Homo sapiens: one gene and its partners. The protein of the gene in region 7 interacts with the protein of the main gene of each other region in a pairwise test. Each region holds a gene or a part of one and is shown on either strand. Other genes may lie near its edges. The genes, in order: SLC39A6, UBQLN4, SGTB, FAM20C, TMEM168, SGTA and SPP1.

Evidence for each region.
Region 1: the proteins of SPP1 (region 7) and SLC39A6 interact in a two-hybrid assay, tested with the Homo sapiens proteins (one study listed by BioGRID).
Region 2: the proteins of SPP1 (region 7) and UBQLN4 interact in a two-hybrid assay, tested with the Homo sapiens proteins (2 studies listed by BioGRID and IntAct).
Region 3: the proteins of SPP1 (region 7) and SGTB interact in binary tests that used the Homo sapiens proteins (3 or more experiments, as listed by UniProt).
Region 4: the proteins of SPP1 (region 7) and FAM20C interact in binary tests that used the Homo sapiens proteins (3 or more experiments, as listed by UniProt).
Region 5: the proteins of SPP1 (region 7) and TMEM168 interact in a two-hybrid assay, tested with the Homo sapiens proteins (one study listed by BioGRID).
Region 6: the proteins of SPP1 (region 7) and SGTA interact in binary tests that used the Homo sapiens proteins (3 or more experiments, as listed by UniProt).

What each region holds. Positions count from the first base shown.
Region 1 is NC_000018.10:36,115,358-36,119,630, reverse strand, and holds part of SLC39A6 (zinc transporter ZIP6 isoform 1 precursor), read left to right. Parts: intron 1-2,851; coding exon 2,852-2,957; intron 2,958-4,273. UniProt on the Homo sapiens protein: Zinc-influx transporter which plays a role in zinc homeostasis and in the induction of epithelial-to-mesenchymal transition (EMT).
Region 2 is NC_000001.11:156,036,799-156,040,298, reverse strand, and holds part of UBQLN4 (ubiquilin-4), read left to right. Parts: intron 1-3,168; coding exon 3,169-3,321; 3' UTR 3,322-3,500. UniProt on the Homo sapiens protein: Regulator of protein degradation that mediates the proteasomal targeting of misfolded, mislocalized or accumulated proteins.
Region 3 is NC_000005.10:65,680,228-65,684,500, reverse strand, and holds part of SGTB (small glutamine-rich tetratricopeptide repeat-containing protein beta), read left to right. Parts: intron 1-3,706; coding exon 3,707-3,845; intron 3,846-3,944; coding exon 3,945-4,007; intron 4,008-4,273. UniProt on the Homo sapiens protein: Co-chaperone that binds directly to HSC70 and HSP70 and regulates their ATPase activity.
Region 4 is NC_000007.14:254,532-258,804, forward strand, and holds part of FAM20C (extracellular serine/threonine protein kinase FAM20C precursor), read left to right. Parts: intron 1-1,317; coding exon 1,318-1,498; intron 1,499-2,122; coding exon 2,123-2,232; intron 2,233-2,473; coding exon 2,474-2,555; intron 2,556-4,114; coding exon 4,115-4,174; intron 4,175-4,273. UniProt on the Homo sapiens protein: Golgi serine/threonine protein kinase that phosphorylates secretory pathway proteins within Ser-x-Glu/pSer motifs and plays a key role in biomineralization of bones and teeth.
Region 5 is NC_000007.14:112,769,592-112,773,864, reverse strand, and holds part of TMEM168 (transmembrane protein 168), read left to right. Parts: intron 1-809; coding exon 810-1,084; intron 1,085-4,273. UniProt on the Homo sapiens protein: Plays a key role in maintaining the cardiac electrical stability by modulating cell surface expression of SCN5A. May play a role in the modulation of anxiety behavior by regulating GABAergic neuronal system in the nucleus accumbens.
Region 6 is NC_000019.10:2,765,764-2,770,036, reverse strand, and holds part of SGTA (small glutamine-rich tetratricopeptide repeat-containing protein alpha), read left to right. Parts: intron 1-945; 5' UTR 946-968; coding exon 969-1,068; intron 1,069-2,350; coding exon 2,351-2,457; intron 2,458-2,816; coding exon 2,817-2,901; intron 2,902-4,273. UniProt on the Homo sapiens protein: Co-chaperone that binds misfolded and hydrophobic patches-containing client proteins in the cytosol. Mediates their targeting to the endoplasmic reticulum but also regulates their sorting to the proteasome when targeting fails.
Region 7 is NC_000004.12:87,977,941-87,981,312, forward strand, and holds part of SPP1 (osteopontin isoform OPN-a precursor), read left to right. Parts: intron 1-2,105; coding exon 2,106-2,186; intron 2,187-2,452; coding exon 2,453-2,494; intron 2,495-3,372. UniProt on the Homo sapiens protein: Major non-collagenous bone protein that binds tightly to hydroxyapatite. Appears to form an integral part of the mineralized matrix. Probably important to cell-matrix interaction.

The DNA of each region.
Region 1 (4,273 bases), on a different chromosome or scaffold from region 7:
TATAACTCTAGATTGTTAGTGAGTTGTAAAATCAATCTGTATGTCATAACCAATATTTTTAAATGCAACAATAATATTATATATTACTATTTTACATTACATATATTAATGTGGGTCATAGTCAGAGTAGTTTGATGCACTCTGCTTTAAAATAGTATCTACTAGAATGTAAGCTCTTAAAAGCCAGGATCTCTCTGTCTTGTTTACAGCTCTGTCTCCAATGTGTAGAATAGTGTCTGGTACATAATCGATGGTAGTAAATATTGAATGTTTAAGGAGCATGAAACAGCAAATAAGCATAATTTCTAGATGAAGACTTCCCATAGGAGTTTTGCAAATGTTACATGTTCTCTTCCCTTTTTGGAATATGCTGAGTTTATCTTTTGTTAAAGGCATCCAGATATTAAAGTTACTTACTTAATAATTTTTAATCTAATTCTCTCAAAAAGAAAACTACTACTCATTATATTGTGAGTATGGGGAGTTCTTCAAGCTCGTAACAGGGCATTTTACTTAGGATTTTTCTTAAGAGATCCATCCTGCATCCCTGGGAGATTCTGTATATCATATTTTTAGGTTATAGGCCTTCTGCTGCTTAAGGTTCACCTTCTGCTAGTGAAGGTTATTGTTCATGCCGAAAACTAGAGAATCATCTCTGATATCCCCCTCATCCCCACATCCAACCAAGTTTTAATAAATATGTCCATGGTCTCTCCATTCCTCTCCATCTTTCTTGCTGTCATTCTAGTCCAGGCCATGGTTACTTCCCACCTGAGTGACAGTTACTGCCTCCTAATAGGAGCCTGTCCACGTTATTTTGTTTTCCTCCTTTTCCCAATCTAGATTTCACAGAGCGGGCAGTGATTTGTTTAAATGAAAATATGATGAGGTTGCACACCACTACTTAAAATCCTTCCTCCAGTGGCTCCATTAGTTTTTGGACAAAGCCCACTATTCTCAACAGAGTTCTATTGTCTGATCTCCTTTAGTTGCCTCAGCCTCATCTCTGGCCACCCTCTCTGACCTAGTAGGCCCCGGCCACCTTGTACTTCTTTGAGTTCCAGAACAGTGCTGGCCCCTTCCTGGTGCTACTCCCTGCCTGGAATGCTGCCTCCCCAACCTTCCCCACCAAATTCCTACCTATCTTTAGGTCTTGGTATAAGTTATATTTTTTCAGTGGCCATCTGGAAATTATTGAGGTCATGTTATTATACATTCTTAATAGCACTCTGTTCTTTTCTATTGTAAAATGTGTCAAAAATTATAGTCAAAGAAGTATATAATCATTACCTGTGTAAAACCCTCTCCCTGTGGATAGTAAGCTCCATGAGAACAGAGACTGTGGGGCTTATTTTATGTTCTGCTCCCAGCATTTAGCATAGGGAACACTGTGGGCCCTTAATACTTATGGAATGAAAGAATTGGTTAAACTACTTTCTAGAACAATTGCCCAATGAGAAATAAAGCACCAGCATAAATGATTTAAGATACCCTGAGTTCATTTATTTTTACAAATATTTAAGTACTTTCTCTGATTGAGGCATTATATTCAGGATAAGTGTAAAGATTTGTGTGTGTGTTTGCCTTTTTTTTTTTTTTTGAGATGGAGTCTCACTCTGTCGCCCCGGCTGGAGTGCAGTGGCGCGATCTCTGCTCACTGCAAGCTCCGCCTCCCAGATTCACGCCATTCTCCTGCCTCAGCCTCCTGGGTAGCTGGGACTACAGGCACCCGCCAACACGCCCGGCTAATTTTTTGTATTTTTAGTAGAGACGGGGTTTCACCATGTTAGCCAGGATGGTCTCGATCTCCTGACCTTGTGATCCGCCCACCTCGGCCTCCCAAAGTGCTGGGATTACAGGCGTTCGCCACCATGCCCGGCCGTGTTTGCCTTTAAAAGCTCTTAAAATCTAAGAATGTATAGACACTTGATATGGTATTAGAGCTTGAATGAAATCTTAGGTATGGTGGTGATCATCATATTCAAAGGTACTGCAAATAAGAAATCTGTTATTTATGTGATAACTTTTATTTTAAATGTTCTGTATAAGTAGATGATACACAGACACCATTGTTCAAACAGTGACCTTTACACAACATAAAGGCTGCTTGGACTTAGGGACAATATCTCTGGTATGGTATTTGGGATGGTTAAAAAGCCCAGTGATGAATTCAGGGTTAATAGAGGCTTGTTTTAAAAGAGAAATCATGTTAATGGTGTTTTATTAAAGAAAAGTGTTTTAATAACTAAAAAACTATAGTTTTAGGTTATAAAAAGTATGGGAAGTTTGGGGTTTCAGTGTGCAGAAGAGGCATGGAAGAAGCCAGGCAGGTGGTTACCAGATCACTAGATGCCTGAAGGAAATGCCCCTAGCTGGATTTTTTTGTTGTTTTTTGAGACAGTGTCTCCCTTTGTCACCCAGGCTGGAGTGCAGTGGCACGATCTTGGCTCACTGCAACCTCCACCTCCCGAGTTCAAGCAATTCTTGTGCCTCAGCTTCCCAAGTAGCTGGGAATACAGGCGCATGCCACCACACCCGGCTAATTTTTGTATTTTTAGTAGAGATGGAGTTTCACCGTATTGGCCAGGCTGGTCTCGAACTCCTGACCTCATGATCTGCCTGCCTTGGCCTCCCAAAGTGCTGCGATTACAGGCGTGAGCCGCCGCGCCTGGCCGGGAGTATGCATTTCTGACAAGTTCCCAGGAGATAGTGTGCTGCTAGTGTGGGAACATACTTAAGAGTAGATGACTGTGGGGGCATTCTGTGTGTTTTGCTTACCTGGTTATTGATTGAAAGCTGTACATATAAACAAATTACTGTTTTAAAGTATTGTTTTCCCTCACTATTTTAGAATCAGAAGAAACCTGAAAATGATGATGATGTGGAGATTAAGAAGCAGTTGTCCAAGTATGAATCTCAACTTTCAACAAATGAGGAGAAAGTAGATACAGATGATCGTAAGTTCTTATGCATAAATTTTAGGGCTGGAGGGAGTTCATTGCTGTATGATTTGCAGGCAACTTGACTATCTGGAAGAAATGGGACCATGTCCCTTGGTTTTGGTTTTTGCAGTATCTCATACTTTGTAAAATATTGCCAGTGAGTACATTGTTTTTGTATATTTACATTTATTTTTTCTGTAACTTTTTATTTTGAAGTAAATTCATATTCATAGAAAAGTTTAAGAATCGTACAAAGAATTCCTGTATCCCATTCACTCATATTCCCCAGTTATTTTACCACACTGTCTTTCTCTAGCTCTGTCTACACACACACCTTTTTCTTTAATTTTTTAGTGACTAAAGGGCCAGCTACACACACTTTTTTTCTAAACCATTTGAGAGTAAGTTATAGACATGATGTTTCTTTACTCCTAAATACTTATGTTTCCTAGGAAAATGGACATTCTCTCATATAACCAGAGTTTAATTATTAAATCAGGAAATTTATACTGATACAGTGCCATTCTCTGTAGACGTTATTCTTCCAAATGCCTTAATAGTGCTTTTTATGCCAACACTCCCCCAACCCCCACCAAAATATTGTTCCAGAGTACAATTCAGGATCAAATATTGCATTTAGTTGCCTCTACTTTTGGGTTTGTTTAGTATTTTTGCATGATTAGGTTGATCAGTTTTGGCAGGAATACCGCAAAATGGTACTTGTCCTTTTCTGTCACATGGTGTGCCACCTGATATGATTCTTTGTCACTTATTGGTGGTGGTAATTTTGATCACTTGCCTAAGGTTGTATCTACCATGTTTCTCCTGTTTTTCCTGAAACTTGGCTGTTTGCTTGGCATATCTTGTCGGACAGACTGAGTTAAGATTCATGTTTTCAACCCAGCTCCTTGCCATGATCTTCAAGGTCCCGCTGAGCCCACCACTCTCCCGCATTGTTCACTGTGCTCCAGCCCCACTGGCCCTCTTTTCACGCTGGGAGCACATAAGGCTTGTCTCCGGGCCATGCACTCACTATTCCTTGTACTTGGAATACCGTTCTCTGAGACCATTACATGCATTCCTCCTCTTGTTGTGCAGGTCTCAAATCAGGTATCTCCTTTAGAGGCCTTCCCTCAGCACCCAACGACAGCAGGCATGAGCCACTGTGCCTAGACCACACTGTTTTGATATATGGTTGTTGTTGTTGTTGTTGTTGTTGTTGTTGTTTTAATTTTTTTTTTTTTTTTGAGACGGAGTCTCACTCTGTCACCCAGGCTGGAGTGCAGTGGTGCGATCCCAGCTCACTGCAAGCTCCGCCTCCCGGGTTCACG
Region 2 (3,500 bases), on a different chromosome or scaffold from region 7:
TCAACCTCCCGAGTAGCTGGGATTACAGGCACGCGCCACCACACCCGGCTAATTTTTTTGTATTGTTAGTAGAGATGGGGTTTCACCATGTTGTCCAGGCTGGTCTCGAACTCCTGACCTTAGGTGATCTGCCTGCCTCGGGCTCCCAAAGTGCTGGGATTATAGGCGTGAGCCACCACACCCGTCCAGAAAGGGCTTTTATACTGCAAGTCAGGGGGCCTTAGTGACTGACTTTCTCTGTGACCCCAGGCAAGTCCTGTCTTTTCTCTGGATCGAACATTGTTCCTTTCAACACCAGGTGGACGGTGCTTGCTGGACTCTTTCTAGCTATAAGAGTCTTTTTTTTTTTTTTTTTTTTTTTTGAGACGGAGTCTCGCTCTGTCGCCCAGGCTGGAGTGCAGTGGCCGGATCTCAGCTCACTGCAAGCTCCGCCTCCTGGGTTTAGGCCATTCTCCTGCCTCAGCCTCCCGAGTAGCTGGGACTAAAGGCGCCCACCACCACGCCCGGCTAATTTTTTGTATTTTTAGTAGAGACGGGGTTTCACCATGTTAGCCAGGATGGTCTCGATCGCCTGACCTCGTGATCCACCTGCCTCGGTCTCCCAAAGTGCTGGGATTACTGGCGTCAGCCACCGCACCCGGCCACTATAAGAGTCTTTTGTTCATAATCAAGGCTTGTGCTTTCCAAATACCCCTTGGGCAAACATTTACAGGAGATAATTAGAGGAATGACAAGAATGAAAAGCCAAGCTAGCCAGGCGGTGGCTCACTTCTGTAATCCCAGCAATTTGGGAGGCCGAGGCAGGCAGATCACCTGAGGTCAGGAGTTCAAGACCAGCCTGACCAACGTGGAGAAACCCCGTCTCTACTAAAAATACAAAATTAGCTGGGTGTCGTGGCGCATGCCTATCATCCCAGCTACTCGAGAGGTTGAGGCAGGAGAGTCACTTGAACCTGGGAGGCAGAGGTTGTAGTGAGCTGAGATCGTGCCATTTTACTCCAGCCTGGGCAACAAGAGTGAAACTCCATCTCAAAAAAAAAAAAAAAAAAAAAAGCCAGGCCAGGAGTGTGGCTCATGCCTGTAATCCCAGTGCTTTGGGAGGCCAAGGCAGGGGACTGCTTGAGGCCAGGAGTTCGAGACCAGCCTGGGCAACGCGGGGAGACCCAGTCTGTAAAAATTTTTTTCTTTTAAAAAAAGTCTTAGTGCAAGCTGGGCATGGTGGCTCATGCCTGTAATCCCAACATTTTGGGAGGCCAAGGCGGGTGTATCACTTGAGGCCAGGAGTTCAAAACCCACCTGGCCAACATGGTGAAACCACGTCTCTACTAAAAATACAAAAATTAGCCGGGCTTGGTGGCATGCACCTGTAATCCCAGCTATTCAGGAGGCTGAGGCAAGAGAATCGCTTCAACCCGGGAGGCAGATCATGCCACTGCATCCAGCCTGGGTGACAGAGCGAGACTCCGTCTCAAAAAAAAAAAAAAAAGAAGAAGACCTAGTGCAGTGGCTCATGCCTGTAATCCCAGCAGTTAGAGAGGCCAAGGCAGGAGGATCACTTGAGACCAGCCTGGGCAACATAGCAAGACCCTTTCTCTGCTAAAAAAATTTTTTTCTTTATTTTTTATTTTATTTTTATTTTTTTGAGATGGAGTCTCACTCTGTCCCCCATGCTGGAGTGTTATGGCACAGTCTCGGCTCACTGCAACCTCCGCCTCCCGGGTTCAAGCGATTCTCCTGCCTCAGCCTCCTGAGTAGCTGAGACTACAGGCTCCTGTCACCATGCCCAACTAAGTTTTGTATCTTTAGTCTCGGGGTATCGCCATGTTGGCCAGTCTGGTCTCGAACTCCTGACCTCAAGTGATCCACCTGCCTCAGCCTCCCAAAGTGCTGGGATTACAGGCATGAGCCACCACGCACTTTTGTTTTTTTAAGATGTACTCTGTCTTCCAGGCTGGAGTGCAGTGGCGCAATTTCAGCTCACTGCACCTCCGCCTCCCGGATTCAAGTGATTCTTCTGCCTCAGCCTCCCAAGTAGTTGGGACTACAGGCATGCGCCACCACACCTGGGTAATTTTTTGTGTTTTTAGTAGACATGGGGTTTCGCCATGTTGGCCAGCCTGGTCTTGAACTCCTGACCTCAGGCAAACTGCCCATCTTGGCCTCCCAAAGTGCTGGGATTATAGGCATGAGCCACTATGCCCAGCCAAAAAAAAATTTTTTTTTAATTGGCTGGGCAAGGTGGTACACACCTGTAGCCCCAGCTACTCAGGAGGCTCAGAGAGAAGGATCACCTGAGCCCAGGAGATAGAGGCTGCAGTGAGCTATGATTCTGCCACTATATTCCAGCCTGGGTGCAAGACCCTGTCTCAAAAAAAAAGGAAATACTTCTCTTTTATAAATAACTGTTGATCAGTGAAACAAAATTAAATAGCTTCTTAACTGGGACCCTTCTCTAGCCTTTCATATGGCTGTACGTGTGATGACTATTAGGAGGGGCCTTGGAGGTCATGCTTAGTATGCATCTTATTTGACCATAGAACATTTGGCTTTTGGAGTGCCTGTTAACATCTCCAGTGTTTATGGAAAGTAATGAGGAATATATGCTGATCTAGGCCTATCAGTTATCTTGAAAATCTAAAAAAGATATCCGCCTGCCATATTATTACACAGTTTTGTTTGTTTGTTTTTTTGTTTTTGTTTTTTGAGACAGAGTCTCGCTCTGTTGCCCAGGCTGGAGTGCAGTGGCGCGATCTCGCCTCACTGCAAGCTCCGCCTCCCGGATTCACGCCATTCTCCTGCCTCAGCCTCCTGAGTAGCTGGGACTACAGGGCGCCCACCACCACACCCAGCGAATTTTTTGTATTTTTAGTAGAGATGGGGTTTCGCCGTGTTAGCCAGGATGGTCTCGATCTTCTGACCTCGTGATCCGCCCGCCTCAGCCTCCTAAAGTGCTGGGATTACAGGCGTGAGCCACCGTACCCGGCCATTACACAGTTATTTAGGACTTGGGACCTAGGCTCCTGGGCCCCCATTTGCAGCTCATCTTCCCTGCCCTCCTGATTGACTCTGAGGATATTAGAGAAGACCTGCTGGTCTTAGAAACCCTTAATTCAAATAGGGCCCCCAAGATTGGTCCTGTGCCCACTTCACAAGGCCTGTCCCCTCCAGGTGCAGACGCCAGAAGTGAGATTTCAGCAGCAGCTGGAGCAGCTCAACTCCATGGGCTTCATCAATCGTGAGGCTAACCTGCAGGCCCTGATTGCCACAGGAGGGGACATCAACGCAGCTATCGAGAGACTGCTGGGCTCCCAGCTCTCCTAATCCCTCGGCCCATGCCTCCTGCCTCTCCCCTCCCTCGATGTCAGCATTCGGTTCTTCTGTCAATCCTTACCCTCTGCAGCTTGTCCTCCCTTCCGTCTTCTCCCTCATCCTTTCCAAACAGCAGGGTGACTTTAGAGGCATGGGCTCCAACCCCTTAGCTCTGTCTGAGAATTATGGTT
Region 3 (4,273 bases), on a different chromosome or scaffold from region 7:
CTTCTCCACAACTTTGCAACTATTACAATCCCCTTCATTTTCTACAACATTAGATCTTCCATCTCTAATAGATGATAATGGTTGGCATGTGATCAGGTCATAAAAAGTCATTCACTGAGCCAGGTGCAGTGGCTAACACCTGTAATCCCAGCATTTTGGGAGGCCAAGGTGGGAGAAATGCTTGAGCCCAGGAGTTCAAGACCAGCCTGGGCAACATAGCAAGACCCCATCTCTATAAAAATACAAAAATTATCCAGGAGTGGTGGGGTACACCTGTAGTCCCAGCTACTTGGGAGGCTGAGGTGAGAAGATTGCTTGAGTCTGGGAAGTCGAGGCTGTGGTGAGCCGTGATCGTGTCACTGCACTCCAGCCTGAGTGACAGAGTGAGACCCTGTCTCAAAAAAAAGAAAAAAAATCATTAGTTGGACCCATCCCTTTACCCAGCGTTCCCCTCTAGCCACCATCCCACTTCTCAGTTCCTCGTTCTCTGCCCCTGATGGTTATCTGTACTTGCTGTTTCATCTTTGTCATCTCTTTTTTTCTTTTTTTTTTTTTGAGACAGAGTCTCGCTCTGTCACCCAGGCTGCAGTGCAGTGGCGCGATCTCAGCTTACTGCAAGCTTTGCCTCCTGGGTTCACGCCATTCTCCTGTCTCAGCCTCCCGAGTAGCTGGGACTACAGGCACCCGCCACCATGCCCAGCTAATTTTTTGTATTTTTAGTAGAGACGGGGTTTCACTGCGTTAGCCAGGATGGTCTCGATCTCCTGACCTCACGATCCACCCACCTCGGCCTCCCAAAGTGCTGGGATTACAGGCCACTATTAACTTATTGTCAAAATACATCACTCTCTAGGATCCTGACACTACACTTGCCCTGTTTCCCCTTCCACTTTACTGGATGCTCTTTTCCAGTCTCCCTTGCTTGTTCTTCCTCTCTACCATCTCTAAACAATGCTGTATTTTAGGGTTGCATCCTCTGCTGCTGCTGTTTCTTTGTCTTCTCTCTGCTCAGTTTATCCTGCTCCATGCTTTTAAAATTCATCTACAGTTGATACTCATTATTTGCAGATTCTGTATTTATGAATTTGCCTACTTGCTAAATTAATTTGTAATCCCCAAATCAATATTTACACTGCTTCTGTGGTCATTCATGTACATGCACAATTAGTGAAAATGTGTCTTCTGATGCTCTCGATCTCAACTGAGGGTGAATAAGGTGATGCTCTATCTTTTTGTTTCAGCTCTCATGCTGAAACAGTCTATTTAGTGCTACATTTTTTTTTGTATTTTTGTGCCTTTTATTTGTGATTTTGCTGTTTACAGTGGCCCCCAACTATAGGCTGAAGTGTTATCTAGTATTCCTAAGTGCAAGAGGACTGTAATGTGCCTTATGGAGAAAATATATTTATGAGACAAGCTTCATTCAGGCATGAGTTAGTGCCGTTGGCTATGAGTTCAATGCTAATGAATAAAATATATATATTAAATAAAGTTTCTTTAATCAGAAACACACATAAAAACAAGATTATATATTGATCAGTTGATGAAAATATGACTATTTACAACAGTTGCAGGAACCTAACTCTGTATTTTCCCTAGGAACAATTGTTCAGTATTTGCTAATTCATTGTTCATGGTGACTTTATAGAACAGGACTACTGTGAATAAGAATCAACTATATATATTATCGGATCTAATTTATATGTTTGAACTCCGTACTCATATATTCTACTACTCTTCAACTCTATGTTTGGATGTTTAATAGGTATTTAAACTTAACATGTCCCAGACAGAACTCATGTTCCCTTCCAAAATCTTTCCAATCTCAATACATTGTACAATTAGTTATCTATCCCATGCACAGGTCAGAAGCCTAAGAGTCATCCTTCATTGTTATTACGCCTGACATAAGTACTGATACTCTGTCATCAAGTCCTGTCAATTCTAGTTTCTGTATATATCTTGAATCCAAGTGTTGATCGCTATCTTACATATAGCCCCAGTCCAAACTACATCTCTTACCTAAGCTACTGCAATAGCTTCCTAACCGATCTCCCTGCCTCCATTCTACCCTTCTGCCCATGTAGATCCTCTACGTAGAAGCCAGAGTGAGCTTTCAAAAGCACAAATTGTATCATGTGACTCCATTGCAACCAGAATAAAGTTCAAACTCCAAGCAATGGTCCTCTATCATCTGGCACCCAACTGTTCTCTGACATCATCTCTCCATGCTTTGTTTTCTGTGTTCCCTCCTCATCAGCCCTTGTCCTGTTCCTTAAGAATACCAAGCTTGCATCTTTCTTGGGACCTTTCTGTTTACTGCTATTTCCACTACAATGCTCCTCCCTCATTTTCATGACTGCTTTCTTTACATCACTCAGATCTTTCCAATGTGGCTACTTTTTGAGCAGCTCTCCTATTCATTCCTTTAATATTGCCCTTTTTATTTGCATGCTTGTTGCCTGTCTTCCCCAGGTAGAATGAAATTTTCTTAAAGACAGAAAACTTTATCTTTTTTTTTTTTTGAGATGGAATTTCGCTCTTGTTTTCCAGGCTGGAGTGCAATGGCACAATCTCGGCCCACTGCAACCTCCGCCTCCTGGATTCAAGCAATTCTCATGCCTCAGCCTTCCTAGTAGCTGGGATTACAGGCGTCTGCCACCATGCTTGGCTAATTTTTGTATTTTTAGTAGAGACAGGGCTTCACCATGTTGGCCAGACTGGTCTCAGACTCCTGACCTCAAGTGATCCACCCACCCTGGCCTCCCAAAGTGCTGCTGGGATTAGAGACGTGGGCCACTGCGCCCAGCCAGGATCCTCAGTATCTTTAGATATTATTTTAATAATATTCTTATACATCATAGAGTTTCAGTAAATAGTTACTGACTTGACTCTTGATTAACTGGGGACTCTGATAAAGTATCATACATGGTTGACTGGTAGAAAATGAATTAGGTTCCGATAAAGAGAAAAAGAGAAAAGAAAACAGTAATTTGTTTAAAACAAACCTAAAACAAACAGAAACCCCTAATACTATGTCACCATATATACAGTTATTGTTTAGTTCTATAATAATTTTTCAATAAGTAAATTATAACTAGGTAAATATGAACATTAAAATTTAATACCTCTTTGACTTGTGCCTGGTATAATTTGTTATTTGAATTGTAAAGGATGCTAATTTTATCTACCTCTTTTGATCAGGAATAGTTATCTAATAACTACAGCCTGTTTTCTTAATGGAAAATTGATATTAATTGTTCCTCTGTTAGGAAGAAGAAAGCATGTAGGCCATTTTGAAGCACAAATACAGTTTAGAGTCCTTAAAAATGGTGTTAGCATCATGGATTTATGTGACCACATGATTGTCAACTCACATCTTTTGGAACTTAGTCTAGGCATTTATAAAGCAAATTATTTTACATATTAAGCTTAAAAATGGTAGAGTAAGTAAGATAATCTCTAAGCATTAAATTCATGATCTATAGGACAACCAGGTTATCAGCAAGCAGAATGGAGTGAGTTCAGATATATAGAATCTTAAGTTGGAGGGAATTTTGCTCCCGTGAGCCATAGTACAGTGAATAAATTAAGTGTAATCTGGATTAGAACTGAATACCAAGACAGACAGACGTTTGACGATGTTTGTGATGTCCTGATGTTCTTTAATCATATATCTGATATTCTTATATTCTATTCCCTTCAGGCTGGCCCTCACTGCCTTGAATAAATTTGAAGAAGCAGTTACAAGTTATCAAAAGGCATTAGATCTTGACCCTGAAAATGATTCCTATAAGTCAAATCTGAAAATAGCAGAACAGAAGTTAAGAGAGGTATCCAGTCCTGTAAGTTGTTAATGCCAAATGAGTGAAGTATTTTCTGTCATTCACAATTTATTGTAATTGTAGATACTGGACTGATTCTCAGATATAATTGTTTTACAGACAGGAACTGGACTGAGCTTTGACATGGCTAGCTTGATAAATAATCCAGCCTTCATTAGTATGGTGAGTATACTTTCTTTTCTGCCTCTACTGGCTATGTTTTCCATAGACTATGTAGCTATGCAATTTTTTTTAGAAACAAGTGAGTTTTTGTGGTGGTGGTTGTAGTGGAGTATTGATATAAGGCTATAGCAGGGTTCTGTTTTTTTATTTCCAACTTTTATTTCAAGTGCAGGGGTAAATGTGCAGGATGTGCAGGTTTGTTACATAGGTAAAACGTCTGCCATGGTAGTTTGCTGCACAGATCCTCCCATTACCCAGGTATTAAG
Region 4 (4,273 bases), on a different chromosome or scaffold from region 7:
GCAGTGAACCCGCACTGCTAGCGGGCCTGGACAGCGCTTGCATTTTTCTGATTATTCTTTCTTTATTAAGGTATAATTCATGTACCACAAAATTTACCATTTAAAAGCGTACAGTTCCGTGGTTTTTAGTATATCCACAATGGTGTGCAACCATCACCACTGTCTAAATCCAGAATGTCCTGCTGACCCCAAAAAGGAGCCCCGTACCATGAGCAGGCGGTCACCGTTCCTCACCCCGCAGCCCTCGACGAGCAGCGTCCCACCCCCAGTCTATCTGGATTTGCCTGTTCTGGGCGTTTCATATTAAGAGGGTCATACGACGTGTGGCCTCCTCTGTCTGGCCTCCTTCGCGGAGCACAGGGTTCTCGGGTTCAGTGAGGGCTTCATTCCTCTTCTTGTTTCATTTCGTTTCGTGTCATCGCACGGATGGACCATGTTCACCTGGCGTGTCCACTCCTCTCTTGATGGACATTTGGGTGGATTCTCTCTTTTTCGGCTGTGGTGAGCGGTGCTGCTGTGAGCATTCGTGTCTGAGTTTTTGTATAGAAATGTTTTCTCTTCTCTTAGGGGTTTACATGGGAGGGGAGTTCCTGGGTCACGTGGAAACACTGTGTTTAATCAGTTGGGGGCTGCAGACCGTTTCCGCCGTGGCTGTGCCGTGTGCACCCCCCGCCAGCAGCGCACAGAGGTGGCGGTTCCCCCGTCCCAGCCGGCAGCTGCTCTTTTGATGGAAGCCATCCCAGCAGACAGGAGATGGTGCCTCACCGTGGCTTTGATTTGCATCTCCCCGGTGACTCACGATGGCGCCCGTCTCTTCTCATGCTTGTCGGCCATCAGGGTCGTCTTTGGAGAATCAGCTGTTCAAGCCCTCTGCCCATTTATTAGTTTTTTTTGTCTTTTTGTGATTGAGTGATGAGAGTTCTTCATACACTCTAAATGCTAGATCCTCAGATGTGCGGTTTGCAAACGTTTTCTACCATTCTGTGGATTGTATCTTCACTTTCTTGACAATATGAATGCATTTTTTAAAAGACTAAATGTTGGCCCTAGGGTTTCCATAGACCAGCCCCTGATTTTCGAGGGTTCAGGCCGGGCTCTGCCTCTGGGGAGCTGTGTGGCCTCGGGACGTCAGCTCTGTGGGTTCATTTTTCTGTACCGTGGGGTGGAGGTGTTTGCTGGGATTGATGGGGAACTGTGGGTGAGTCCTGCCCATGAGAAGCACCAGGCAGAGCCCGGCCCGGCCTTGGGGGCCGTGAGACCACAGGTGAGGACGCAGCCCTGTGCGGCCCTGGTAACCCGCAGCCTGTCCCTCCCCAGCCAACAACATCTGCTTCTACGGCGAGTGTTCCTACTACTGCTCCACGGAGCACGCCCTGTGCGGGAAGCCAGACCAGATCGAGGGCTCGCTGGCGGCCTTCCTGCCCGACCTGTCCCTGGCCAAGAGGAAGACCTGGCGGAACCCTTGGCGGCGTTCCTACCACAAGCGCAAGAAGGCCGAGTGAGTGCGGGGCCGGGGGGCTGGCGTCCGGCCACCCTACGGCAGAGGGAGCTGGGCCTGGGCGGGCATGGGAGGGTCGGCGCCCACGGGGGTGGCAGAGATGGGTGCAGAGCCTGCTGTGCGATGCTGGCCTGTGTGAGATGACCGCTTCCTGATGAGACGGTGGCAGAGGGCGTCCTTACTCCAGTATTTCCATGTGCTTCCCTGACCCGGGCCGGCCTGCCCACCAGGTCCCTCGAATCGGGGCCTCTCAGCGTTTGAGCTCTGCTCTCGCCCCGTCCCTCTCCTCACTCCTGCGGGAGAAACGGCCCCTGTTCTTTCCGCCCCACGTTGTCCTCGTGAGTGTGTAGTCCAGGTCCTGTTTCCCCACAGAGACTCTGCAAAAAACACGGGGCCCAGAGGTGAAGGCAGCTCCAGGTGGGGTCACCCCGAGGCAGGGCAGAGCGGCTCCGTCCCCTCCCACACCCGTGCTCCCGCTAATGCAGCCTCAGCGCCGCAGCCCGGGCGGGTCCATCTGCAGACGCCAAGGTCCCTGCCGCAGTGTTTCTCTTCTGCTCCTCATGGCACGCGCCGGGCTCCCCAGAATCTGGCCTGGGCCCCCCGTCTCACGCTGGCTCCCCGCAGGTGGGAGGTGGACCCTGACTACTGCGAGGAGGTGAAGCAGACACCGCCCTACGACAGCAGCCACCGCATCCTGGACGTCATGGACATGACGATCTTCGACTTCCTCATGGGTACGTCCCGCAGGGGCACGGGGTCCCCGTGTCACTCGCCTTGCGTGGAGCGGATGCACGCAGGGCTCTGCAGGGCACACTCCGTGGCACGGCCCGGCTGCGGTCCTGTGGCCTGTGAAGGGGCCAGATTGCTTAGAGGTCACGCTGGCAGGAGGAGACGCCGCTCTGCAGAGCACAGAGGCCTCTGAGCTACGTGGCCCGGCTCCCCACGAGCTGTGACACTTTCTGCCTCTCTCCGCAGGAAACATGGACCGTCACCACTACGAGACTTTTGAGAAGTTTGGGAATGAAACGTTCATCATCCACTTAGACAATGGAAGAGGGTGAGCCTGTCCTCGCCCCTGCACACCCAGGGAAGGGCCGGCCACCTCCCAGCTACCTGCAGCCCACCTGAGACCCTGGGGACGGGGGGAGCAGACCCTCCAGTGGAGGGATGGGAATGTCGCAAAGGCCCATCTCAGAGCCAGATGCAGAGGGCGGCCCCAGGCCCCAACCAGGAGGGAGGGCCGCCCCGGGAGTGGGACCTCCGAGGCACAGGAATGCTGCAGACCAAGTCCCGGCAGAGCTGGTGTTACCTGGGAAACGGAGGCCAGGAGAGGCTGCTGGTAGGAAGAGCAGGACCGTGCAGAATAGATGGGCCTCTGCCTGCACGCGGTACCTGGAGCCAGCCAGCGGGGGATAGGCGGCCTCTGCGGCCGCTGCTGGCCTGCCACGGGGGGTCTTGGGCGGCGCTGTGAGACCCTGGTTACCAGGGAGGGTGACCCCTAATAAGCAAAGCATGGAGGCGAGTAACTCGGGCAGGAGGACGTCCATTCCCAGGCTCGGAGGCCTCAGAGAGATGGACTTTGGGCACTTCAATAGCTAAACTGTGGGCTGACGCTCCCTGGAGCCATCTCAACTCGGCTGCCCAGGACCCTTCCCCAGGCCAGAGGCCAGGACCCCACATACAGGGCTGGGGACAGGCGGGGTGGACCCACTGCCTGGGGTGCTGGAGATGGGCAGGGTGGACCCACTGCCCGGGGTGCTGGAGATGGGCTGGGTGGACCCACTGCCCGGGGTGCTGGAGATGGGCAGGGTGGACCCACTGCCTGGGGTGCTGGAGATGGGGCTGGGTGGACCCACTGCCCAGGATGCTGGAGATGGGCTGGGTGGACACACTGCCTGGGGTGCTGGAGATGCCCGGGGTGGACCCACTGCCTGAGGTGCTGGAGATAGGCAGTGTGGACCCACTGCCTGGGGTGCTGGAGATGGGGCTGGGTGGACCCACTGCCCGGGTGCTGGAGATAGGCAGTGTGGACCCACTGCCTGGGGTGCTGGAGATGGGGCTGGGTGGACCCACTGCCCGGGGTGTTGGAGATAGGCGGGGTGGACCCACTGACTGGGGTGCTGGAGATAGGCAGGGTGGACCCACTGCCTGAGGTGCTGGAGATAGGCAGGGTGGACCCACTGACTGGGGTGCTGGAGATGGGTGGGGTGGACCCACTGCCTGAGGTGCTGGAGATAGGCAGGGTGGACCCACTGCCTGGGGTGCTGGAGATGGGTGGGATGGACCCACTGCCCGGGGTGCTGGAGATGGGCAGGGTGGACCCACTGCCTGAGGTGCTGGAGATGGGCAGGGTGGACCCACTGCCCGGGATGCTGGAGATGGGTGGGGTGGACCCACTGCCTGGGGTGCTGGAGATGGGTGGGATGGACCCACTGCCTGGGGTGCTGGAGATGGGTGGGATGGACCCACTGCCCGGGGTGCTGGAGATGGGCTGGGTGGACCCACTGCCTGGGGTGTCGGGTACAGGCAGGTGGACCCATGGCCCAGCTCCCAGCCCAGCAGCCTGTTAGGAACCTTGTACAGGGGCCCTTGACAATTCTGCTTTTCTTCTGGAAGGTTTGGGAAGTATTCGCACGACGAGCTCTCCATCCTGGTGCCGCTACAGCAGTGCTGCAGGTACAGCCCCTGCCGGAGCCGGCTCCAGCTCCACCCTCCTCCCTACTGCGCAGGAGACAGAGGAGGCCACAGCCTTCCCCACCCCACCCCGGCCATCAC
Region 5 (4,273 bases), on a different chromosome or scaffold from region 7:
ATTCCTTACTCTTTTGTGACTGTAATGAAAAAAAGTTAGTAGAATAGTACTGATGATATATGAAGCAAAATCTAACGTTTTCAAAAATCCCGATAGAAATCCCTTTTCTGGATAGGAATGATGATTTTTTCTTTCTCAATATTAATGGTATTTTGCTAGTTATAAGACTTGCTTTATCATCTTTGTACTAGAGTACCATTTTATATTTGTTCTAGGAGTAAATCTAAGTCTTCAACTAGTGTCCAGTGGTATAAAGCAATGGACCTAAATTTTAATAACTTTTTAAATGCCTATTAATAGATAATTTCTTCTATTATTTATGTACCTTAAGTTAATAAAATTTGAACACAATTTTATTGACTATTTTTCAATACAGAAGTAAATATATAATTAAAATATTGCTTTTTTATTTTGTGTTATAATATTTTTAAAGAAGTTTTTTTAATAGTCCCCACCCAGATGTTCTTGAAACAGTGTAATCCTGCTTTTAAAAAACCTTGTCCAATATTTGTCATGTAAGAAAATACGAATAAGGAACAAAGAGTAATACTATCTACATTTGGAGACATTATCCCAGCTTTTAATTTGATTATTGTTTTAATGATAGTAAATATAATATTTAGAAACCAGGTTTTGATTTTCTAAGCTTAATTCTCAGTACTATAGGAATTTTAGAAAGGGTGATTTTTTACAAAAATCCTGCCACTTAGCAGCAACTATATTATAACTGATTCTTAGATAATCAGTTACAAATGACAGATGAGAATGTGATATAGAATGAGTACTTCTTGTTTTTTCTCCTACTTCAGTCCTGATGGTCAGCCAACACTGCTTCCCCCAGAACATGTACAGGAGTTAAATTTGAGGTCTACTGGCATGCTCAATGCTATCCAAAGATTTTTTGCATATCATATGATTGAGACCTATGGATGTGACTATTCCACAAGTGGACTGTCATTTGATACTCTGCATTCCAAACTAAAAGCTTTCCTCGAACTTCGGACAGTGGATGGACCCAGACATGATACGTATATTTTGTATTACAGTGGGCACACCCATGGTACAGGAGAGTGGGCTCTAGCAGGTAAACTCACCTTTGGCAGTTTCACTATTGTAAAGATACACATGTATATGTAGAAATCTGTACTTCACACACAGTCGTTAAATTTCCAGGATTCTTAGTTTACTGAACTATGCATATGACTCTAATTTGTTTTTCTTTGCTCTAGCATACCTGTTTAGCCTAATTTAATCTCTAATGATAAGATTGGGAATTACGTCTTATAGTGATTAGAAGGAAAAAAATGCTTTGAGACTTACAGTTTCCCTTAAAATATTTTCAGAATTGCTAAACATATTTTTCAGAAGCTGATAAACTCCTTTGACTAGTATCTTTAAGTTTTTAAATGTTATGGATGCAGATTTCAGTAGTCCTTCACATCTGTAGTTTTATTTATGTTATAAAGCTCACCAAAATTTTAAACAGCAGATCATGTAGTATGGTGGGAGTAGCACTTAGGTCAGGAGACCTTGGTTCTGGTCCTAATTTGCCACAGCTGTGTTATTTTAGGCAAGTTAGTTAACTTCTGTTGGCTTCAATTTTCTCATCTGTAAAATAAGGGGGTAATTGTAAATGACCATTGAGTTTTATTCTAAGGTACAAAATTCTGTAGGGATTTTTTTGCATTTGAAAAAACATAAAATAACTTTGGTTTGCATGCATTATGGGAAATAGAAAACTTCTTAGTTATTGCCAAGAGAGAAATGAGATCTCTTTATATCATATATAAATTTGTCAGTCTTTCCAACTATTAATAGAGAGAAAGTCAAGGGCTTTGTTTTATCAACTGTTACTTGTTTAGGACCTATAACAGAGCCCAATACATAGTAGAGGATCCTTAAGTAGCTGATAGATAGATGAAATCATTGAATAAATCATTAAAAAAGGTAATTTTCTTATTTTAGATTAGAAATAGTTATTTTAGATTTAATTACATGATTTTTTTTTCCATAAAAGTGTAGATGTTTTAAACCAAGAATATATAAATAATAAAATAGTCATAAATAAAGTGGAAACATTCAGGATAAAGAAAAAGATAAATAGAAGTAGTATGGAAGGACAGAGGCAGAGTTGCCAATATAAGAACTCCAGAAAGAGACAAACAAAAAGGTTAAGGTAGAGATGATTTTAAACTAGCATGATCTCATTGATTTCATGCCAGATTTGTAACTGAGGTTTTTATCATAAGGAGAAATATTTTTTTGAAATTTTTCTTTTTTGCAAATAAATATTGAATAACTCAGTGGCCTTCTAGTAGAAAGACAAGCTAATATTTATTGGGTACATTTTAAGCATCAGCTTACTGTACTTAGTACCTTACACACATTGTTAATCTTTATGTGAAATCCTTTGAGATAGATACCATCACTTCTGTTATCTTCATTTTTCAAACGATGAAATGGAAATTGAAAGTTGTTATGTAACTTATCTGTGGTCATACCACTATGTGATAGAACCATGATTTAAGACCAGATCTGCCTGATTCCTAAAGTGTATTTTTCCCCCCACTCTACCATGTTGCCTCCAAGGGTGAAAGCCATGATGATAAAGGAATGGCATGTTCTGGTTAAGTGGATATTTTTGTTAACATGGGTCACCCATTTCAAAACATTAGAATGTACAAGACTAAAAGATGCACTGAACATTAAAACTAATTGAATATAGTTTATAAAATCATTTACTTGACCTATAACTTTTTAATTACAACGTAGAAAGCATCTTTTTAACCTTTATGGCTACTTCAGTTTCAGGTAAAGTATAACGTTCTGTGTATTCCAACTCAGAGCACAAGAGAAAGCTTTTAGTCAATTAAAATAGCCTTTACAGAAATAGAATTTTAGATCTAAAAGCAGAGATTGCTGAAACTTACTATAATCCTTATGATAATAAACTCTACCCAGATCAAATGGAAAAAACAGGGCTAATTTTTGGTGGCCATGCATATATCCCTAGTTATTTTAAAGTGTTAGAGTAATTTTAGAAGTAAGCTTTTTATGTGTGTTTATATGAAGGATTTATTACTTAATAGAAACACTTTTCAAAAAGTTTGCATTTTTCTTAAGTAATTTAAAATTCATTAAGTATTTCTTAAAGATAGCTATGGAAATCAATTCTAGATGTTCATTTACTAATACTTATATCAGCTTTTTATTTTTCTAAGAAAAGTAAAAACACTAAGATAAACACACACACACATATATATATCTCTCGCAGTTTTTCTAAATTTTCATTCACTGTTAGGAATAATTTTTGAAGACTTTAAGAACACTAAAATAGAGTTGTATTTTAGGTAAATGTTTAGCAGTTACATTCTAGAATGATGTCTTTATAATTTTTTTGAAGTATGCTACCAGTAAATTGACCGTTACAGAATTCCTCTGTTAGCTAAGATTTGTTCTTGTGTAACTTTGAGGCTTATTATAAGAAGTTTAAAAAAAAGAGAGAGAAAGCATACTGATCTCCCTTCCCTGAGAAAGGTAGATTTTATCTTATAATTCAGCAACTGCATACTGTCATGCATGGCCTGAGGCATCTCGCATACTTGTGGGTAGTCAGGTTGAACCAGGCCCAGAAAAGCCCGCTTTTCAGTTAGTTCATGCCCTGGCCTGCTTTAGACGTAGTCCTCAAGGGCTGATTCTGCCTCACAAATAGTATTGAATATCTCTGCTCTGAGGAAAATACTTTCATCTATTCCAAATTAAGTGACAAAGAGCTTTAAGCTCTGCTAATTTATTAATAGTTGGGGATTTTTTGTTTTGTTTTTTGTTGTTTTTTCAGCAAACTTTGAAATAGGAAACATCACAACTGGATTTTACTTGGGTTAGCAAGTTGATAGCAGGCCCAGTATTAATATCGCTGTGGGAAAGAGAATCTATATTTGCCCTTTATCCCATACCTTCACTCACAGTAGTTAGAATATGTAGTCTTCTTATATTTATGGAGTTTCATGATATGGAACCTAATATTTTTGCCTCTGCTTGAGGATAGAAAACAATTATGGTAATTACAGGAGAGACAGAAATAAATGGAAAAAATGTAGATAATTTATAAAGCAGTTTATTACAAATAAAACCTTTAAAAAGCAGTCTCAATTACTTAAAATGCATCAGATGGATATTAGCTTAGATAAATGTAAGTACTTTGAATCTGGGCCAAAAGCCAAATGTAGCATAGAACCTATTCATAGGAGAAAGCAGAGCAAAACAAGAGAAA
Region 6 (4,273 bases), on a different chromosome or scaffold from region 7:
CAGGCGGGTGTCCGAGGGGGGCACAGGCGGGTGTCCGAGGGGGGAACCAGGCGGGTGTCCGAGGGGGGAACTAGGCGGGTGTCCGAGGGGGGAACCAGGCGGGTGTCCGGTGGGGGAACCAGGCTGGTGTCCGCTGGGGGAACCAGGAGGGTGTCCGGTGGGGGAACCAGGCTGGTGTCCGCTGGGGGAACCAGGAGGGTGTCCGCTGGGGGAACCAGGAGGGTGTCAGGTGGGGGAACCAGGCGGGTGTCCGAGGGGGGCACAGGAGGGTGTCCGAGGGGGAACTAGAGGGGGGTCTGAGGTGGAATGAGGTAGGTAGGCCTCCCAGGGGGAACAAGACGGGTCCCCAAGAAGTCCCTGGGGGGAGTCCTCTGCAAGTCCTGTGAAACAGTGATACCAGGGCAGGCACACCTGGCCCCGTTGGGTACCTAAGAAATGCTTGCTGACATGCCACAAAAGAGGTAAATTGAGGAAAGGGGCAGTGGCTCTGGCTGAGGACAAGGTCTCTCCCTCTCAGCACTGTGGACATTGGGGCTGGATCGTTCTCTGGAGTGGAGCTGTCCTGGGCACTGCAGGGTGCTGGGCAGCATCCCTGGCCCCCACCCACCTCATGCCAGAAGCAGGGGCGGAGGGGACCTCCGTGGCGCCTCAGTACCACCCTGGGAGTGCTCAGGAGGCCCTGGGAGCACGCGGGTTCTCTAGGGCAGGCCCTGCTTGCCTGCTGGCCTCACACTTTCTGGCTGTGTGCATAGCCGGATTGGTGAGCTCTGGGCCTCAGGTCATCATCTGTGAAATGGGCGTATTAAGGCCTTTCTACCTGGGCTGTCCTGGAGCTGAGATCAGCCAGCACCCTTAAAGTGAGGCCCAGCTAGTTAGGGGCAGGCCTGGGGTGCCTGGAGTGGGGAGTGTGAGGGGGCCTGATGGGGGTTTTTCCTGCACCCCCAGGTATCACCTCTTCTGGGCTCAAGATGGACAACAAGAAGCGCCTGGCCTACGCCATCATCCAGTTCCTGCATGACCAGCTCCGGCACGGGGGCCTCTCGTCCGATGCTCAGGAGAGCTTGGAAGGTAGGTGGGTGCCTGCCACTTCCCCCTCTCCCCGGGCAGCGGCCAGCACAGTCGCCTCGTGTAGACACCTGGTGTGTAGATGCCTGGTCCCCCGCCTGGCTTTTTGGGGGTGGAAGCTAAGCCCAGAGAGGGCAGGGGTCTGCCCAGGGCCACACAGCCCCCGGCCGTGGGAGCCAGGGCCGAGCTGAGCCCTCCCGCCTGCCACTGCGTGGCGCCACCACTGCTTGATGCCTTCAGGCTGAGCTGCCTTCCAGTGGCTTTTTTCCATCTCCCCATCTTCCACCAAGGTGTGTTCTGGAATGTTCTCACCACCCAGTGTGTGTGTGTCACCATCGGTCACGGGGAAAAAGCTCTCCTAGTGCTGGCCCCGCCCCAGAGTCCCAGACTCGTTGGCATCCTGCATGGCCTGTCCGCTCCCCAGGTGCCTTGGTCTCCTGGCTGGTCTTGCTTGCGCTTCTGCGACACCTGGATCCGGGGCTCGGAGGGAAAGGAGGGCTCGGGGAGGCACCCTCGTGTGGCTGCAGGTTCTGCTCTAGGTCCTCCTTCCCCACCTATGCCTCGCTCACCTGTGTCCTGGGCCTGCCAGGCCTCTGTAGCATGGACACCCAGTGACAGCTGTAGGGATGTGCCCGGGGTCCTTGACACAGTGCTGGGCAGGAAGTGGCTGACCCCCACTTCTGACCTGGGTTAGGACCCTGGGTCCACACGAGGAGGCGGCCAGGGCTAGTGTTGTCTGGCTCGGTGGGAGGGCCCCCTGGGTGCTGAGTCTGTCAGGTGGGCCAGCAGAGAGAGGGGCCCTGTGGCTGTTTCTTGTCCTGCTCTCAATGGTCCTGCCCTGGTACAGACCCAGTCATACAGGCCTTCTACTGGGGGCTGGCTTCAAGCTCCTTACTCAGGCCAGGCGCCCTTGGAGGTGCAACAGCATCCGGGGCACCTCACCCCTGACGTGGCCCTCCAGGTGGGGCCAAGCCCCCACCACGCCGCAGCCGGGCAGCCCCAGCATTGGGACCCCACAGAGGCCTGAGGTCACCACCTGGGCTCCACTCTGCCCACGGCCTCTGCTGCTCTCAGGGGCACGGGGCGTCTCTGTCTGGCTTTTCTTTTCGGGAAGGAAGAGGGTCCACTGTCCCAGCCCAGAGCACAGGCGGCGGCCCCTGCGTTCTGGGGTCCTTGGGAATGAACACACCTGGGGAAGCATGAGCACCAACCCCGCCCTCTAGACCCAAAAACGTAACCTCGGGGCTGCGTGCAATGAATGGGACCGCCTCTGTCCCCGCTTCAGTCGCCATCCAGTGCCTGGAGACTGCGTTTGGGGTGACGGTAGAAGACAGTGACCTTGCGCTCCCTCAGACTCTGCCGGAGATATTTGAAGCGGCTGCCACGGGCAAGGTGAGCCTCGATGCTTCCCCAGCCACTGCCCCCAAAATAAGAACAGCAACAGCAGGCAGCCCTGGGGACCCCAGGAGCCCCGCTCTCATCGTCCCCCAGCACTCTGCCTGCATCCTCTCCTGGGCTGGGGACGTGGCTGCAGGAGCACTTGGCCCTCCTCCCCCTATCGGCGGGTCCTGAGACACATAGCGCTGTGGTCACTCGCCCAGGGCCACATGATGGGGGGCCAGGAGTCCCCTGCAGAGCCCCCGGGTCCTTCGGAACTTGGTGGCCCTCTCTGGCGTCCCGAGGGAAGCTAAGGCCGGAGGGTGCCAGGTTGGGAGGAGAGGACAGCGGGCCGCCTTTGCCTCCGGGTCCAGGAGATGCCGCAGGACCTGAGGAGCCCCGCGCGAACCCCGCCTTCCGAGGAGGACTCAGCAGAGGCAGAGCGCCTCAAAACCGAAGGTAAGGGAGGACCTCCATCCCCACAGACACCTCGCCCTACCTGGACTCCGGGGCTGTGGGACCCTCGCAGAGGCCAGCTGGTCCCTGGGGCCCAGGGAGCTGAGGGAATTGCCCTGATGACCAGCACGCTGGCTTGTGGGGACGGGGACGGAAGGGGGACTGGCGAGGGGACTGGCGAGGTGCAGAGAAACTTGACCTTCAGGCACAGCACGGCTGGTGGGGTTGTCGGGAGCGGCCCCTGTGGAAGACTGGCTGGTGGCCCCCAAAAGTTGCACAGCTTCCATGAGACCCGCCGGTTCCACCCTGATACTAGATATGTGCCCAAGAGAGACACATGTCCACCAAAACCCAGACACATGTTCACAGCAGCTGTATTCACAAGAGTCAAAAAGCAAGAAGAGGCCGGGCGCGGTGGCTCACACCTGCAGTCCCAGCTCTTTGGGAGGCCGAGGCGGGCAGATTGCCTGAGGTCAGGAGTTCAAGCCTAGCCTGGGCCAACATGGTGAAACCCCGTCTCTACTAAAAATGCAAAAAAATTAGCCAGGTGCAGTGGTGGGCACCTGTAATCCCAACTACTCAGGAGGCTGAGGCAGGAGAGTTGCTTGAACCTGGGAGGCGGAGGTTGCAGTGAGTCCAGATCGCGCCACTGCACTCCAGCCTGGGCGATAAGAGTGAAACTCCGTCTCAAAAAAAAATAAAAAATAAAAAATAAAACAATAAAAAGAAGCAAAAACAGCTTAAATGCCTGTCCACGCTAAATGGTCAGCACAGCATGGCCCATCTACACGGTGGAATGTGGATGGGTGAGGCTCTGACCCAGGCCCCAGCGCAGATGCACCGTGAAGACATCACACTCAGGGAGAGAGGCCAGACACAAAAGGACGCACAGCATGTGATCCCATTTCTTTTTTTTCTTTTTTGAGATGGAGTCTCGCTCTGTCGCCCAGGCTGGAGTGCAGTGGCGTGATCTCGGCTCACTGCAACCTCTGACTCCCTGGTTCAAGCAATTCTCCTGCCTCAGCCTTCTGAGTAGCTGGGACTACAGAAGCCTACCACCACGCCCGGCTAATTTTTGTATTTCTAGTAGAGACAGGTTTCACTGTGTTGGCCAGGATGGTCTTGGTCTCCTGATCTTGCGATCCGCCTGCGTCGGCCTCCCAAAGTGCTGGGATTATAAGCATGAGCCACCGCGCCCGGGCTTATATTTTTAAAGCGTAAGCTTTGTGGCATGTAAATTATATCTCAATAAAACTGTTTAGGGAAACACACGCTGATACCCATCTTCCCCCCACGCCCTCCTGAATTGGGATCTCGGGGGCGGGAGTGGGTTTCTGTCTTCAGGGCTCTCAGTTCTAGGATAGCAGCTGGGGTT
Region 7 (3,372 bases):
AGAAAAATTAACATCTCCAGAGAAGATAGAGGTCATACTATTTGAGGCAAGAATTAGCGTCTTTTTAATAAACGAAAATATGGCAAAGATGCATTTTAGAAGGCACGTGGAGCTATAACAATTTAAGAAATACGTGAAGAGCTCAAGGCTCAGCCTTCTAGAATCCCAGAAACTTAAAGCTAGTAAAAAATTGGGGAAGTCTCTAAGGATATATGCCTGAAAATACACACTGGTTATCTGTGAGTGTTAGGATTACTGGGTGGTTTTTAGTCTATTCATTTTGCTTACCTTTATTTTCTTCATATTAGTTTTTAAAAATTATAAATGTAACTTATACATCCATTCTCTCTGAGCCTGTATTACATGTGTCATGAGAATAGATAGATAGATATGAAAAAGTGAAGAGAAAAACTCTGAACTCATCTGGTCTCACTGTTTTTCCGCCTTCTTTTTTTTTTTTTTTTTTTTTTTTTGAGACGGAGTCTCGCTCCGTCGCCCAGGCTGGAGTGCAGTGGTGTGATCTCGGCTCACTGCAAGCTCCGCCTCCCAGGTTCACCCCATTCTCCTGAGTAGCTGGGACTACAGGCGCCCGCCACCACGCCCGGATAATTTTTTGTATTTTTAGTAGAGACGGGGTTTCACCGTGTTAGCCAGGATGGTCTCCATCTCCTGACCTCGTGATCCACCCTCCTTGGCCTCCCAAAGTGCTGGGATTACAGGCGTGAGCCACTGCGCCCGGCTGTTTTTTCATCTTCTTAAAGCAAGGAACCCCTTCTTTCAGCAAAACCTTTCGGAGAAGCCCAATACTAAGCTCCTCTGGTTAGAGCCAGCCATGAGAGAAACTCCAAGTACTTCTGACTGGTTCTCTCTCTACTCATCCACCCCTTAGGTGGCTGCAGAAGGAACTCTGTGCAACCCCCAGAGTTCTCATTCTCAGTGACAGGGAAATGTAATGATTGGCCCTGGATGATTCAGCAGATCAGATGATACTTACTCAGAGCAATTTCCACTCCTTTGCAGTAGCATATTATCAGTATTTTCCAGATAAATAACTTGGCTAAAGAAAAATCCATTTCATTTACATCTTTGGCACCTTACAGCAATAGAACTTTTGTGCAATGATTTTAATATTATATTTCTACATTGGCTGATAAGATACATATGGCTATTGAGCACTCAAAATGTGGGCTAGTGCAACTGAGGAACTGAATTTTTATCTTCTTTTTTTTTTTTTTTTTTTTTGAGATGGAGTCTTGCTCTGTCACCCAGGCTGGAGTGCAGTGGCGCAATCTTGGCTCACTGCAAGCTCTGCCTCCTGGGTTCACGCCATTCTCTTGCCTCAGCCTCCCCAGTAGCTGGGGGTACAGGTGCCTGCCACCACGCCCGGCTATTTTTTTTTATTTTTATTTTTTTTAGTAGAAACGGGGTTTCACTGTGTTAGCCAGGATGTTCTCGATCTCCTGACCTCGTGATCCGCCTGCCTCGGCCTCCCAAAGTGCTGGGATTACAGGGGTGAGCCACCGTGCCTAGCCATTTCATTTTAATTAACTTAAATTTAAATAGCTCCATGTGGTTAGAGGATACTGAATTAGCACAGTCTTAGAGAGTTCCTTCTTGTTCCATGGACTGGACACAATGAAGATTAACAGTAATTAAGGTCACTTCTGGTTTAGATGTGCTTTATCTGAGAGGAAAATTCAGCCAGCAAACATACAAAAAGAAAGCACAGTGTGAAGTTCGGTGTTAAGAGCTAGTTTGCCTGCGTTTGAACCCTGCCTGGCTCTGCCATTTCCTACCACTTAACTGCACTGTGGCTGAGTTTTCTGATCTGTAAGGTGGGAATAATAATGATACCTATCTCATAGGGGAATGAAAGGATCAAATGAGTTCATATTTGTAAAGCAATTTGAAAGAGTGCCTAGCCCACAGTAAGTGCTACATAAGAGTTTGTTAAATGAATCTGCAAAAAAAAAAAAATTACAAAAAGGTACCTAAGGGTCCGGGTGACTATATGCTTCCATCAAGACTAGTGAAGAATGGTTGTTTTTTCCATTCATCCCTACATTTCTTTTTTTAATAATGATAAACATGCAACTTTTTTGTAGCTTTACAACAAATACCCAGATGCTGTGGCCACATGGCTAAACCCTGACCCATCTCAGAAGCAGAATCTCCTAGCCCCACAGGTATTTTTAAACTTCTCATAATTAAACTACAGTGATGAAAGATAGCCACACTCAGGCCATTTGGGCTGCTCAGATGAATCCTGCCTGCCTGCTGGCAAACATGTGCTTAGGACATTGACTGATCTGCCATGTTGGCTTCTCTCTGTGTTAAGCCATCCACAGATGAGGCTGAAAAATAAAAACTGCTTTGGATTAAAAAGGTTAACTTTTGAATAAAAAAGCTAGGCATGTGTGATGCGCACTAACACGTGCCATTCCTTCTTCAGAATGCTGTGTCCTCTGAAGAAACCAATGACTTTAAACAAGAGGTAAGTTCTCATTTTCAATCAGAGGCCCATCATGCCTTGAAGAGATGAAAGAAGGCATTGCCTGGATTCTCTTCTGATGAAATTTCATTAGCAAGTTTTCCAGCTAATTGGCAGTCTAAAACTTGCTCATAAATAAAACATGTATTTACTAAATATCAGAAATACTAGGTTTCCTCGGATAAGTTTAGCATTACAGAAGATGTTTATTAATGCCTGTTATTTGAAACATTAATCTGCTTGCAATTTATTTAAGGTATTTTGTAGATATCTAATATCTAATAAGCATCTAATTAATGCATATCAAAGCTAAGATTTTGCCTTTAGGAAAGTTTTCTTTCCTAATAAAATAGTTTATTTGACAACTATTCTTTTTATTAGGATCATTCATATATTTGCTAAGCAAAGAGTAAATTTATTTTCCTTAAGATTCAATTTGAATATACTAAGAATATTAAAGCAAGTTAGATAAATTACCCAATATATTTGTCAATTTGAAATTTGATAGACATTAGTTGTTTAATTCAATGGGCAGTTTTGAGCTGCAGTTTATACACACATGCATAACAGAGTCACCTTTCAATTATCCATGTTAATAGGAAAGTGGTTATAGATTTTAGTACACACATTAAAATATGGATACTCTTCTCTTTTGATAAATCTCATTTCAAATAAAAAAACCAGTCTCATAATTATGTATCTGTATCTATTACATCATTGAATTTAGTAAATAATGTTTAATATGTATAAGGAAAAACAATGTTATTGACATGAAGATTATACTCACATATTTGGCTTGAAAATATCTATAAAAATAATTTCTGTTGCAAAGTAAGAAATGTTCTTCAGAATGTTATTAATCCCTGTGTTAAAAGAGAAAT